Linked DNA regions of Homo sapiens. The protein of the gene in region 1 interacts with the protein of each later gene in a pairwise test. Each region holds a gene or a part of one and is shown on either strand. Other genes may lie near its edges.

Region 1 (7,149 bases):
ATGGTATATCAGTTTTAATTCGCTTTTATGATGAGCGAAGTTAAATTTTTTTTTTTTTTTGAGATGGGAGTTTCACTCTTGTTGTCCAGGCTGGAGTGCAATTGTGCGATCTTGGCTCACTGCAACCTCCACCTCCCAGGCTCAAGGGATTCTCCTGCCTCAGCCTCCCAAGAGCTGGGATTACAGGCATGCACCAACACACCTGGCTAATTTGTATTTTTAGTAGAGATGGGGTTTCACTATGCTGGCCAGGCTGGTTTTGAACTCCTGACCTCAGGTGATCCACCTACTTCGGCCTCCCAAAGTGGTGGGATTATAGGCGTGAGCAACCGCACCCAGCCAGTTAAATATCTTTTAAGAGTCATATATATTCCCTTTTCCATAAACTCTCTGTTCATACTCTTTTTTTTAGACAAAGTCTCACTCTCTCGCCCAGGCTGGAGTGCAGTGGTACCATCTCAGCTCACTGCAACTTCCGCCTCCCAGGTTCAAGCGATTCTCGTGCCTCAGCTTCCCAAATAACGGGAATTACAGGCACATGCCACTTCACCTGGCTCATTTTGTATTTTTAACATGGGTTTCACCATGTTGGCCAGTCTAGTCTCCAACTCCTGACCTCAGATGATCCTCCCTCCTTGGCCTCCCAAAGTTCTGGGATTATAGGTGTGAGCCACCATGCCTTGTTCATATTCTTTATCCATTCCCCTCCCAGATAATTTTGTCCTTTCTTCATTGAATCCAGTAGCTATTTATGATACTCATGTTAGTGATATGAGGTATGATAATAGCTTGGGATATGAGTTACGAATATTTTTTCACAAGTTGTCATTAGATTTTGGCTTTTTGGAAAGCCTTTGGCCATGGTAATTTTTGTTGCCTATTTTCCTTTAAATTTGCAGGAGGCCGGGCACAGTGGCTCACATCAGTAATCCCACACTTTGGGAGGCTGAGGCAGGCAGACCACTTGAGCTCAGGAGTTCAAGACCAGCCTGGGCAACATGGCGAAACCCTGTCTCTATGAAAAATATGAAAAATTAGCCTGGTGTAGTGGCACAAGCCTCTAATCCCATCTACTCTGGGGGCTGAGGTAGAAGGATCGTTTGAGCCCAGCAAGCTCCAGCATGGGTGACAAAGTGAGATCCTGTCTCAAAAAATAAAAAATAAATAAACCTGCAGTATTTTGAATCCTAAGGTAGTCTTGGGTGTGTGTGTGTGTGGTTTCATTGTCCACATTTGAATCTTTGAGCCATTTGAAATTTATTCTCAGGTACAATATAAGGATCAAATTTTTTTTCAATATATTTTCCATTTTTACTGTGCATACACATATATACAATGTATTTTTTAAATGAGCTTTACAATATGTGGTTTTATCACTTGGTTTACAACTAAATACACTGAACATTTTCTCTTCTACAACAGTTAAAAGAATTGCATAGCTTGGAGGAAGCATAATTTATTAAGCAATTTTGTTGGGGACATTGAGGTATAATATTTTTTCTAAAAAGACTTTTTACAAAGGCTGAGGCAGGAGAATCACTTGAACCTGGGAGGCAGAGGTTGCAGTGAGCCGAGATTGCGCCACTGCACTCCAGCCTGGCGACAGAGCGAGACTCCGTCTAAAAATCAATTCTTTTTACAATGCCTTTAGGAAAAAAAGGGGAGTCCTTGTCTTATATATCTTTCATTAGATGATGGAAACTTGCCCTTCCATTTAGCCTTTTAACTTGCTTCTCTACACCCACCTAATCACCAGTTAAATAACCTATTTTATGTTTTCCAACCTCTCTCTCCCATTTGCTTCCTCTTTCTTACCCAGTCTCCCTGCACACATGCAGACAGACTTCCATTCCTTCATCACTCTGGTTCCTCGCCTTAAAGAGGCTGTCTTTCCTTTTAAAGAGACAATGTTAATTGATTTTGATCAACTCTACTCAAAACTGTATCCTAAGGTCCACATTAAGATTAGTCTTTAATAATCTGAAGATATAATTCAGTCGTTTAAAAGAACATATTAAGAAGACCTTGGTAGAATTACATGTATCAATAAACACGAGGCCTTGAGCAGTTGCTCACGCCTGTAATCCCAGCACTTTGAGAGGCTAAGGCAGGCAGATCACAAGGTCAGGAGTTTAAGACCAACCTCGCCAATATGGTGAAATTCGGTCTCTACTAAAAATACAAAAAAGTTAGTCGTGCATGGTGGCACATGCCTGTAATCCCAGCTACTGGGGAGGCTGAGGCAGGAGAATTGCTTGAACCCAGGAGGCAGAGGTTGCAGTGAGCTGAGATCGTGCCACTGCACTCCAGCCTGGGTGACAGAGCGAGACTCCATCTCAAAAAAAGAAAGAAACACTGGACTTGGGTGCAGTGGAGATATGGCTGACTTTCTTTTGAAAAAAGAAGTCGTTTTTTGGGAGAGGGCAGGGCAAAGAAGTAAGAAGTTGTTGATACTGTAAGGAAATGTTAGAGACCATTTTGGAAATATACTCATTATTTTAAGTAAACTAACAAATGATCATCTTTCATTGTAGCAGCAGCTTTTACTGGTCATGAAATTTGCATGATATCTAAAATGGTATTTCTGGAAATAGGTCAGTGTCAATTAATAGTAACTTTGTATAGAAAGGCAGATGCCAGCTAGCATAAAAGTGGTACATGCAGACGGTGGTAGTTCTGGAGTCCTGGAAGCCATGAGATGCTCATCCATCACAAGGCCATCACAGCCAGTAAAATGCCTGAGGAAAGCAGCAGAGCTGGCCGTGCCAGCATTTACACAGGGAACACTTCTTGGGCAGCCAGGTGTCATGGAGCACAGACCCACAGTTCTCTTTGCACACATCGTGCTCACAGTTCCATCCATAGAAGGACGGGGGGCAGGCACAAAAGGACCCCAATGCAGGTTCCCCCATTCAGGCAGCAGGTTCTGCTTAGCTCCTTACTGTCCTGTATCCCCATGGGCAGCACACGCTGGGAAGACTGAGGCCGAATTGCAGGCTCCTCCTGGGGCCGAATGCTGTCATTTCTGAAGGCCAGGTCTCCCTGAGATGGACACGCAAGTTCCTGATGACCCAGCCCAGCAACTAATCCCAGTTCAAAGGCTTCAAAATGGCCATGATCCAAATCACACTGGAAGAGAAGCAGGCCATCTTCCTGCAGTCCATAGCTCTGTTGTTGTCCCCTTGAAGTTACCTTCCAGAGAAGTCCTTTCTTTTGTCTTCTGTGGAATATCACAAATGTGCTTTTTGAAGCATATATGTCACATGTAGGAGAACTCCATCTCTCCAAGAGAACTGTAGAAACAAAGTAAGGTACACGTGAGTCAGAATGATTTCCAACCCAATCAGCTCCCAGACACGACCTGTGATAGGTCAGAATTTTTAGATGGATCCTCCTGAAGTTCAATTGCCAGCAACTCTCATATTTGGATTCCAGCTAAATTCAAAGGATTTTTTTTCGAGACAGGGTCTTGCTCTGTCATACAGGGCTGGAGTGCAGTGGTGCAATCATAGCTCACTGCACAGTCCACCTACCAAGCTCAAGTCATCCTCCCACCTCAGCCTCCTGAATAGCTGAGACTACAGGTGCACATGCCACCATGCCTGCCTAATTTTTTTTTTCTGTAGGGACAGGGGTCTCACTATGTTGCCCAGGCTGGTCTCAAACTCATGGGCTCAAGCGATCCTCCCACCTTTGCCTCCCAACTTGCTGGGATTACAGGCATGAGCCACTACACCCAGCCACAGCTGACTGATTTTAAATGGAACATAGACTTTCACGTTTTGGGTTATCATCAGGATCAGAGCTAGCCACACAGAAAGGCTAACCATATCATTAGAGAGTTGGGGCTTGGAGCCATGTGATATCAGGTAGGAGGCTGGAGATTGACTTCAACAAAATGGACGATGGTTTAATCAAGCATGCCTAGGTAGTAAAACCCCAGTAAAAACTCTGGACACCAAAGCCTGGGTGAGAGTCCTATGTTAGCACTACCCCCACACTTATTGCCACACATGGACGACAAAGGGTAACACATCCCTAGGAACACAGGAACTTCACATTTGGAACCCTCCCCATCCCAGATTGTGCCTTATACATCTCTTCTAATCTGTGTCCTTTGCCTGTAATAAGCATGACTGTGAATATAACAGATTTCAATGAGCTCTGGGAATTATCAAACCTAAAGGTGGTTTTGGGAAACCCCCAAACTTCCAGTGTCAAAATATTACTTACAGGCCAGGCCGAGTGGCTCAGGCCGGTAATCCCAGCACTTTGGGAGGCCAAGGCAGGATGATCACTTGAGTCCAGGAGTTCGAGACCAGCCTGGGCAACATAGTGAGACCCAATTTCTACAAAAAATAAAAAATCAGCTGGGTGTGGTTGTGTGCACCTGTAGTTCCAGTTACTCCAGAGGCTGAGGCAGGAGGATGGCTTGAGGCTGGGAGGTCAAAGCAGCAGTAACCGAGATCGCACCACTGCACTCCAGCCTAGGCGACAGGGCGAGACCCAGTCTGAAAAAAAAAAAAAAAAGACAGGAGCTGGAAAATGACCGTATAAGGAACTTTACATTAATACTGAAGTGGTTGTAATTTAAGATACCGCGCAGTCCGCAGGTCCTCAGGCGCTCAGAGGACCAGAGGCGGCTACAGACGTAATGGCTACTCAGGACCGCTAGGGAACGCTAGAGGATTGGCCACCGTGCTTACGCATGCGCACACTCTGGCACGCACAGCGTTTACGCGCTCACTGAGACTCGCGCATGCGCAGGTCTCGCATACAGCAGTGCAGTGCCGTTATTCCAGTCTCCGTAGAAACGCTGGGACTATGGCGGAGCCGACTGGGCTGTTGGAGATGTCCGAGCTCCCCGGAGATAGCAGTGTCCCACAGGTGGGCACCGCGAGTGGCGTCAGCGACGTACTGCGGGGGGCAGTCGGCGGCGGGGTTCGGGTGCAGGAGGCTCGGGAAGGCCCAGTGGCCGAAGCTGCGCGGTCCATGGCGCGGATGCCGGGCCCTGTGCCCGGGCCCATCCCCAGCAGCGTCCCGGGCCTGGCCTCCGCGCCAGACCCCCATCAGCAGCTCGCTTTCTTAGAAATTAACCGGCAGCTGTTGTTCCGCGAGTATCTGGATGGTAGCTCCATGATTCCGGTCAGATTACTACGGGATTTCGAGGAACGCCGCAGGCTGTTTGTGGAAGGCTGCAAGGCGAGGGAAGCAGCCTTTGACGCGGATCCCCCGCAGATGGACTTCGCTGCTGTCGCGTTTACGGTAGCGCTGACTGCCTCCGAGGCCCTCAGTCCTCTGGCCGACTGAGTCGGCTGTGATGATGACATTGGTGGCAAGGAATAGCCAAGTGACCCTTTTGGGATCAAAAGAACAGGCAGGCTGTGCCAGTTTAGTTAACTCAGTCATTAGGGGGAATGCAAACTGGAAGGGAATACGGCAATGTGCAATTGAAGGAGGAAGCACACTCCGAAATGGAAACAGACAAGACTGTTGAATCTTGTTTTCTTTCTTCTTTTTTAGTATTATTTAAATAGAGAAGGGAGTCTCGCATCCCTAGGCTGGTCCCGAACGCTTGGACCCGAGCGATCCTCCCGCTTCGGCCTCCCAAAGTGCTGGGATTACTTTACAGGCGTGAGCCACCGCGCCCGGCCGAATCTTGTTTTCAAACAGGTCCCAAGACACTTCTGACTTAGCACTTTGTTAGCAATGCATTTTCCTGCATTTGTGAAGAATCCTTCATGACTTTCACCATAAAGGATGGTTTTGCAAAGATATGAGAAAAAAAAAATGCCAATAACAGAACCCATAGAAATGAACCTAAGTGATGAAAGAAAACAAAGAAATAGAGTTGTCAGGAATCCAGGTGTACCTGAGTTACTAGGATTGGAAGGCTATTGAGAGGACTTTGAAATTTCACAATTTGTGGTCATGTCAACAAATCCTAGTGTAAGATTCATATTTGTGTTTTCTGAGGTACTTTAGATGAACAGTAAATATTCAATAGAAAAAACCACGTATTATATGATCAGTGTTTTCAAGTCTATGTGAAATTGGGTAGGTGTGGAATAAACTTGTTTTTTGTTAATTTTAAGCTTTTTATTTTATTCTAGAATATGTATTCTATTCACAAGACTCAACAAAAAAAAGTATCGGCCGGGCGCACTGGCTTACGCCTGTAATCCCAGCACTTTGGGAGGCCACGGCGGGTGGATCACCTGAGGTCAGGAATTCAAGACCACCCTGGCCAACATGGTGAAACCCCATCTCTACGAAAAATAAAAAATTAACTGGGTGTGGTGGCACGCGCTTGTAGTCCCAGCTACTCGGGAGGCTGAGGCAGGAGAATCACTTGAACCTGGGAGGCGGAGGTTGCAGTAAGCCGAGATCACGCCACTGCACTCCAGCCTGGTCAACAGAGTGGGACTCCGTCTCAAAAAAAAGAAAAAAAGTATCAAAAGATGCTGTGAGAAATCTCTCTTGTTGCTGTCCTTTGCCAAACTCAGAACTATTCCATGCAGGTGCCATTGCTTGTGGCTTGGAGTTTTGTTGTTGTTTTCTTGGTTTTGCTTGTTTTTTGCTTTTTCACTGTACGCCTTTCAGGTTTTCTAATGCATATGCAAATAAACATCAATCTAAATATTGTGCATTTTCCCTTTTAATATCAAGGTAGTTAACTTGCATCACGAGGTATAAATTTTTAAAAATATAAAATCAAGGTAACATATTGTATACCTCTATCAGCATCTTGGGTTTTTTCAGTTATATATGGAGAGATTTATATATCAGGGTTTTTTTTTTCTTTTTTTATATATAGAAACAGAGATGGGGCCTCATTATGTTTTCTAGGCTTGTCTCCAACTCTTGGCTTCAACTGTTCCTCCTGCCTCGGCTTCCCAAAGTACTAAGTGCTGGGCGTGAGCTACTCCACTGGGCGTTTTTTTTTTTACAACTACAATGTAAAGCCTTATCTTAGTATAATGAACTAGACACCTTTTGGACATCTGGGTTGTTTGCAAAATGTTTTAACATTTTCTATGCATTTATACGTGTTTACTCGTTTTCCATAATACACTGTTTTTTTTTTTTCTTTTTGAAACAGAGTCTTGCTCTGTCACCCAGGCTGGAGTGCAGTGGTGCAATCTCAGC
Region 2 (6,987 bases), on another chromosome or scaffold:
AAGGGTTTTGAAATCCTTGTTTGTACCCTTATAGGATTCTGTCTCCTTTATTTCTGGCAAGAAACTTAGGCACTGCAAAATAACATACAATTTTAATTATAAGACAACATTGGGCCAGGGGATGGACTGTTATATGCATGAGCCAAAGATAGTCTCTATATATTGATTCTGCCAGTACCAAACTCAATTTTTTACACATCAATTGTTTTAAATATAGACCAATAAGTAGATTGTTAGCCATTTAGAGGCTGCCTTCTTTGCATGTCCCTGTGAAACTACAATCATCTGTTAGCTATAGATAGGATAAACTCCAGGAGATAAAAACCCTAACCTACTGCTGCCCTTCAGAGATCTCTGACCCAGCAACTCCCTGTCTTGCTGCTGAGAGACATCGCTACATGTATAAGCCATCTCTTTGATTCCCCTCCCTCTCTCCAGTTAGCTTGTCCTCTCATTTTCTAGGTTGTGACCTCCCACCAGCCTCTGGAAGATCTCAGACTTTGATTAACCCCATGCCCTTGCAAACCTGTCAAAGGGTTGACCAAATGAAACTCGTATGCTTATACACTGTTGGTGGGAATGTAAATTAGTAATAATAAACACTATATATAGTTCAACCACTATAGAAAGCAGTTTGGAGATTTCTCAAAGAACATAAAACACAACTACCATTCAATTCAGTAATCACATTATCGGGCATATATCCAGAAGAAAAGAAATCATTCAACCAAAAAGACACATACACTCATAGTTGTTTGCAGCCTTATTAACAAGAGCAATGACATGGAGTCAACTTAGGTGTCTATCACTGATATTTGCTAAAGAAAATGTGGTACATATATACCATGGAATACAACACAGCCATAAAAACTAATGAAATAATGTCCTTTGCAGCAACATGGATGCAGCTGAAGGCCATTATCCTAAGCGAATTTACACAGAAACAGAAAACCAAATACCATATGTTCTCATTTATAAGTTGGAGCTAAAGATTGGGTACTCATCAACATAAAGGTGGCAAAAACAGACACTGGAGGACTATTAGAAGGGGGAAGAAGAAAGGGGGTCATGGGTTGAAAAACTGTTGAGTATTATGCTCACTACCTGGGTGATGAGATCATCTGTTTTCCAAACCTCAGCATCATGCAATATACCCATATAACAAACCTGTGTATGTATCCCCAGAATCTAAAATAAAAGTTGAAATTCTAAAACAGACAAACAACAAAAACTCATTGTGTGTTACTGAAAACGTGTGGTAGTATATATTTTTCTTGATCAGTCCCCAAATCTCTTGCACTCACTTGTTTCCTATATTTTAATTCTACATATAAATTACACAAAACATATTATTATTATTGTTTTACATTGTCAATATGTCTGTTTACCCACATATTTATCCTTTCTATTACTGTTCGCTTCTTGCATCTCTTCAGTTTCAGAGGAGAACCTTTCAGTATTTCCTCAGTGTGGGTGTACTGGTGATCAATTTACTCAGCACTGATTTCTGAACATGTATTTATTTTGCCTTCATTTTTGATGTACTATTTCAGTAAGTTCAGAATTCCAAATTATCAGCTTACAAATCATTAAATTCCTTAAGTGACAAACTTGTATACAATGTAAGACTCACCTCTTTGCACTTCCCTTTTTTCTGAGATCATTACTCTTGAAGTCCTCATTGCCTTTATAGGTTTCTGATGCTATATTGGTAGCCTTTGTTGCCATAAAAGGGTTTCTTTACCTAAATTTCTGGGGTTTTTTTTCCGCAGGGCTGCTGCAATCAACTATACATTATTAGAAATGGAATTCTTTGATATCATTATAATGACTTACTGGTATTCCATTTTTAGTACCATAATTTCTTCAAATACTCTTTAGTTATTTAACATTCATTTAGTTTTCAGCTCTGTTATACTAGAACAAATTATATAATAAAAGTTATTTTAGCTAAATATTTGCACATATATCTTATTATTTCTTTAGAATATATTTCTAGAGGTAAAAATTTTTAGTTTATAGGTTTGAACAACTTCAGGGTCTTTAAAAATCACTGTACCCTAGGTTAGGAATATCTGTTGCTAAAGCTTAGAAATATCTTAGGTTTTTTTGTGCCTCCCATTCTGAATAGGCCCCAGGCATAAAAACTGCATTGGACTTCACAGAACCGAAACTGGTTATTCATATAAGGGATTGCTTCTCCAATTGGAGACAGAGATGGTGACACATTGTGACTGTAGCCAGTTATTTTCCCTTTCCTAAAGACGTATTAAAAAAAAGTATTGGAACCAACCCAAATGCCCATCAATGACAGACTGGATAAAGAAAACATGGCACATATACACCATGGAATACTATGCAATAAAAAAGGATGAGTTCATGTCCTTTGCAGGGGCATGGATGAAGCTGGAAACCATCATTCTCAGAAAATTAACACAAGAACAGGAAACCAAACACCACACGTTCTCACTCATAAGTGGGAATTGAACAATTACAACACATGGACACAGGGAGGGGAACATCACACACCAGGGCCTGTCAAGAGGTGGGGAGATAGGGGAGGGATAGCATTAGGAGAAATACCTAATGTAGATGATGGGTTGATGGGTGCAGCAAACCACCATGGCACGTGTATACCTAGGTAACAAATCTGCACATTCTGCACATGTACCCCAAAACTTAAAGTATAAAAAAAAAGAAAAAAAGACAAAAGTATACTCCCAGATTTTTGAGAAGATATAAAGAAAGACAACATATAATAAATGTTTGCAGCAAGATATAAACATATCAATAAAGGGTCAATAGTGGTAAGCTGAATTGTAGTGGTTGTGTGAGTGTCAGAAAGTTAGTGTTTTCCCTCTATCTCTCTTCCTCTCTCTCTCTCCCCTACTTCTAAAAACAGCCTGCCCGTCCTCTTCAGTGTTTTCTTTCTTACTCACTGCTGCCGTGCTACTCTCAGTTGGAATGATTTTCTCATCCTTGTCCTTTTGGTAAATATCTACCCACTCATCTTTTTAAACATCTCCTCTTTTATGAAGCCTTTTCTGCATCTACAGGTAGAACTGACCCTGCCATCCCCTGCATTCTTTACAAACTTCTAGAAAATTTAGCTTTACTTTTTCTCTGACTCCCATTTTTACATCGGGTGCTCCTTGATGACAAAGAGATTAACTGTAACTTCGGGATAGATGACCAGTGTTTGTTGAGTGAATGAATAAAGGGATCAGGGTTGGATCTGCTCAAAAGTGCTAGAGTAATAGAGCAAAACAGAGCAGGTAACACATCCCTTAACACTCGGTATCTCAACTGACTTTCACAAAAGCTCTATTAAATGAGCAGGTGATTGTGGAGTGAAAGAATTAAACAAATTTTCAAGAGTTTTAGTGGCTTTCCCACTAAAGCCTGGGTGACTGGGAAAGTTTGGGCTGGGAATGTTGGGCTTTTCAAGCGTGTTCGAAGCTCCCTAATTGGTACTAAATTTCAGGCATTCAGACCCTCTAGGAAAGAGTTCTTTCTAGCTCACAACATTAGGGGAGGAGTTAGACACATAAATGGAGAAAGTGATAGAAGAGACATGGTCAGGGATGGGGGTTCTACCCTTCCAGAGACAATGCACATTTTCTTTGAAACAGCTTCGGGAAAACTGCAAATCTCAATGATATTTACCAATTTTGAGAATCTATTAAGTGCCTGGCACTCTGTGTAGAAGCCCTCCAATCGTACCCTAAATCTGAGAAGTATTTATTATTATTTCCATTTTTACTCCCTAATGCATCTACTCTAAGCTCCTTGCTTCACCCTACCAAAGTTTCCCTTCTGCTAGTGCTCTCCTTTGGTGCAGAACCACCGCATCCACTTTCTCAGGCCCAGGGGAGGGGCGGGGCGGGGCGATTTCGCCTTGCCGCAGAGCCAGTCTGCGCCTGCGCGGACTGCGGCAGAGGGCGGGGTGTGAGAAGCAGAGTACAGTGAGACTAGCATTCACTGCTGGCCAGTGCCTGCCTTTTTCACCACCTCTAATTTCAGCTTCAGCAGTTGCTTGGAACTTTGGTTCTGGCAGCAGCAGCAACATCATTACCGCTAGCGGCAGTTTTGTGCCGAGGCACCTACACACCTCCCGTCCTCTCTGCCAGATCGCGGGCCTGTCGGTGTCTGCTCCTACACGCCAACGCCGGTGGGCAGGACCATGTCTCTGGTAAGCCAGAATTCGCGCCGCCGCCGCCGCCGCGTTGCAAAGGCTACTGCGCACAACAGCAGCTGGGGCGAAATGCAGGCCCCTAATGCCCCCGGTCTCCCCGCTGATGTGCCAGGCTCAGACGTCCCCCAGGGTCCCAGCGATTCCCAGATCCTCCAGGGCCTCTGCGCCTCTGAGGGCCCAAGCACCTCCGTTCTGCCCACCTCCGCTGAGGGCCCAAGCACCTTTGTGCCGCCCACCATCTCTGAGGCCTCAAGCGCCTCCGGGCAGCCCACCATCTCTGAGGGACCTGGCACCTCCGTGCTGCCCACCCCCAGTGAGGGCCTAAGCACCTCCGGGCCTCCCACCATCTCTAAGGGGCTGTGCACCTCTGTGACGCTTGCCGCCTCTGAGGGCCGGAACACCTCCAGGCCGCCCACTTCCTCTGAGGAACCTAGCACCTCCGTGCCGCCCACCGCCTCTGAGGTACCGAGCACCTCCCTGCCGCCCACCCCTGGTGAGGGAACGAGCACCTCCGTGCCGCCCACAGCCTATGAGGGACCAAGCACCTCCGTGGTGCCCACCCCTGATGAGGGACCAAGCACCTCCGTGCTGCCTACACCTGGTGAGGGACCAGGCACCTCCGTGCCGCTCGCCGCCACTGAGGGCCTGAGCACCTCCGTGCAGGCCACTCCTGATGAGGGACCGAGCACCTCCGTGCCGCCCACCGCCACTGAGGGCCTAAGCACCCCCGTGCCACCCACCCGTGATGAGGGACCGAGCACCTCCGTGCCGGCCACTCCTGGTGAGGGACCGAGCACCTCCGTGCTGCCCGCCGCCTCTGACGGACAAAGCATCTCCTTGGTGCCCACCCGCGGTAAGGGATCAAGCACCTCCGTGCCCCCCACCGCCACCGAGGGCCTGAGCACCTCCGTGCAGCCCACTGCTGGTGAGGGATCGAGCACCTCCGTGCCGCCCACCCCTGGTGGGGGACTGAGCACCTCCGTGCCGCCCACCGCCACTGAGGAGTTGAGCACCTCCGTGCCGCCCACTCCCGGTGAGGGACCAAGCACTTCCGTACTGCCAATCCCCGGTGAGGGACTGAGCACCTCTGTGCCGCCCACCGCCTCTGATGGATCGGACACCTCCGTGCCGCCCACTCCTGGTGAGGGCGCAAGCACCTTAGTGCAGCCCACCGCCCCTGACGGACCGGGAAGCTCCGTGCTGCCTAACCCTGGTGAGGGCCCGAGCACATTGTTTAGCTCTAGTGCTTCTGTGGACCGGAACCCCTCCAAGTGTTCCCTTGTTTTGCCAAGCCCTAGGGTAACCAAGGCCTCCGTGGACTCAGATTCTGAGGGTCCTAAGGGTGCAGAAGGCCCTATAGAATTCGAGGTCCTGAGAGACTGTGAGAGCCCCAACTCCATTAGTATTATGGGCCTCAATACTTCCCGGGTTGCAATTACCCTGAAGCCCCAAGACCCTATGGAACAGAACGTAGCTGAGCTGTTGCAGTTCCTGCTGGTGAAGGATCAGAGCAAGTACCCTATCCGGGAGTCTGAAATGCGGGAATATATTGTTAAAGAATATCGCAACCAGTTTCCTGAGATACTCAGGCGAGCAGCAGCCCACCTGGAGTGCATTTTTAGGTTTGAATTGAGAGAACTTGACCCTGAGGCACACACCTACATTCTGTTAAACAAACTGGGACCTGTGCCCTTTGAAGGGTTAGAAGAGAGCCCAAATGGGCCAAAGATGGGCCTCCTGATGATGATTCTAGGCCAAATATTCCTGAATGGCAACCAAGCCAAGGAGGCTGAGATTTGGGAAATGCTCTGGAGGATGGGGGTGCAGCGGGAAAGGAGGCTTTCCATTTTTGGGAACCCAAAGAGACTTCTGTCTGTGGAGTTTGTATGGCAGCGTTACTTAGACTACAGGCCAGTAACTGACTGTAAACCAGTGGAGTATGAGTTTTTCTGGGGCCCAAGATCCCACCTAGAAACCACCAAGATGAAAATTCTGAAGTTCATGGCGAAAATATATAACAAAGATCCTATGGATTGGCCAGAGAAATACAACGAAGCTCTGGAAGAAGATGCTGCCAGAGCCTTTGCTGAGGGTTGGCAGGCTCTCCCTCACTTTAGGAGGCCCTTTTTTGAGGAAGCTGCTGCAGAGGTACCATCCCCTGATTCAGAGGTTTCCAGCTATTCCTCAAAATATGCCCCACATTCATGGCCTGAGTCAAGATTGGAGAGCAAGGCAAGGAAGCTGGTGCAGTTATTTCTGCTTATGGATTCAACTAAGCTGCCTATACCAAAGAAAGGAATTCTGTACTACATTGGCCGAGAGTGCAGCAAAGTGTTCCCTGACCTCCTGAATCGTGCTGCCCGCACCCTGAACCATGTCTATGGGACAGAACTAGTGGTACTTGATCCCAGGAATCACTCCTATACTCTGTACAACCGAAGGGAGATGGAAGAAACTGAGGAGATCGTAGACAGTCCAAACAGGCCTGGCAACAACTTTTTGATGCAGGTCCTAAGCTTCATCTTTATTATGGGCAACCATGCCAGGGAGTCTGCAGTCTGGGCCTTTCTGCGGGGCTTAGGGGTTCAAGCTGGGAGAAAGCATGTGATTACCTGCAGATACTTGAGTCAGCGCTATATAGACAGTTTACGGGTTCCTGACAGTGATCCAGTGCAATATGAGTTTGTATGGGGTCCTAGAGCCCGTTTGGAAACCTCTAAGATGAAAGCCTTGCGATATGTGGCCAGAATCCACAGAAAGGAACCACAGGACTGGCCACAGCAGTACAGGGA

What was found. Proteins that work in one complex are often made in the same cells at the same time.
Region 2: the proteins of EID2B (region 1) and MAGEE1 interact in binary tests that used the Homo sapiens proteins (3 or more experiments, as listed by UniProt).

What each region holds. Positions count from the first base shown.
Region 1 is NC_000019.10:39,530,478-39,537,626, reverse strand, and holds EID2B (EP300-interacting inhibitor of differentiation 2B), read left to right. Parts: upstream 1-4,774; 5' UTR 4,775-4,824; coding exon 4,825-5,310; 3' UTR 5,311-6,640; downstream 6,641-7,149. UniProt on the Homo sapiens protein: Acts as a repressor of MYOD-dependent transcription, glucocorticoid receptor-dependent transcription, and muscle differentiation.
Region 2 is NC_000023.11:76,423,748-76,430,734, forward strand, and holds the start of MAGEE1 (melanoma-associated antigen E1), read left to right. Parts: upstream 1-3,962; 5' UTR 3,963-4,183; coding exon 4,184-6,987. UniProt on the Homo sapiens protein: May enhance ubiquitin ligase activity of RING-type zinc finger-containing E3 ubiquitin-protein ligases. Proposed to act through recruitment and/or stabilization of the Ubl-conjugating enzyme (E2) at the E3:substrate complex.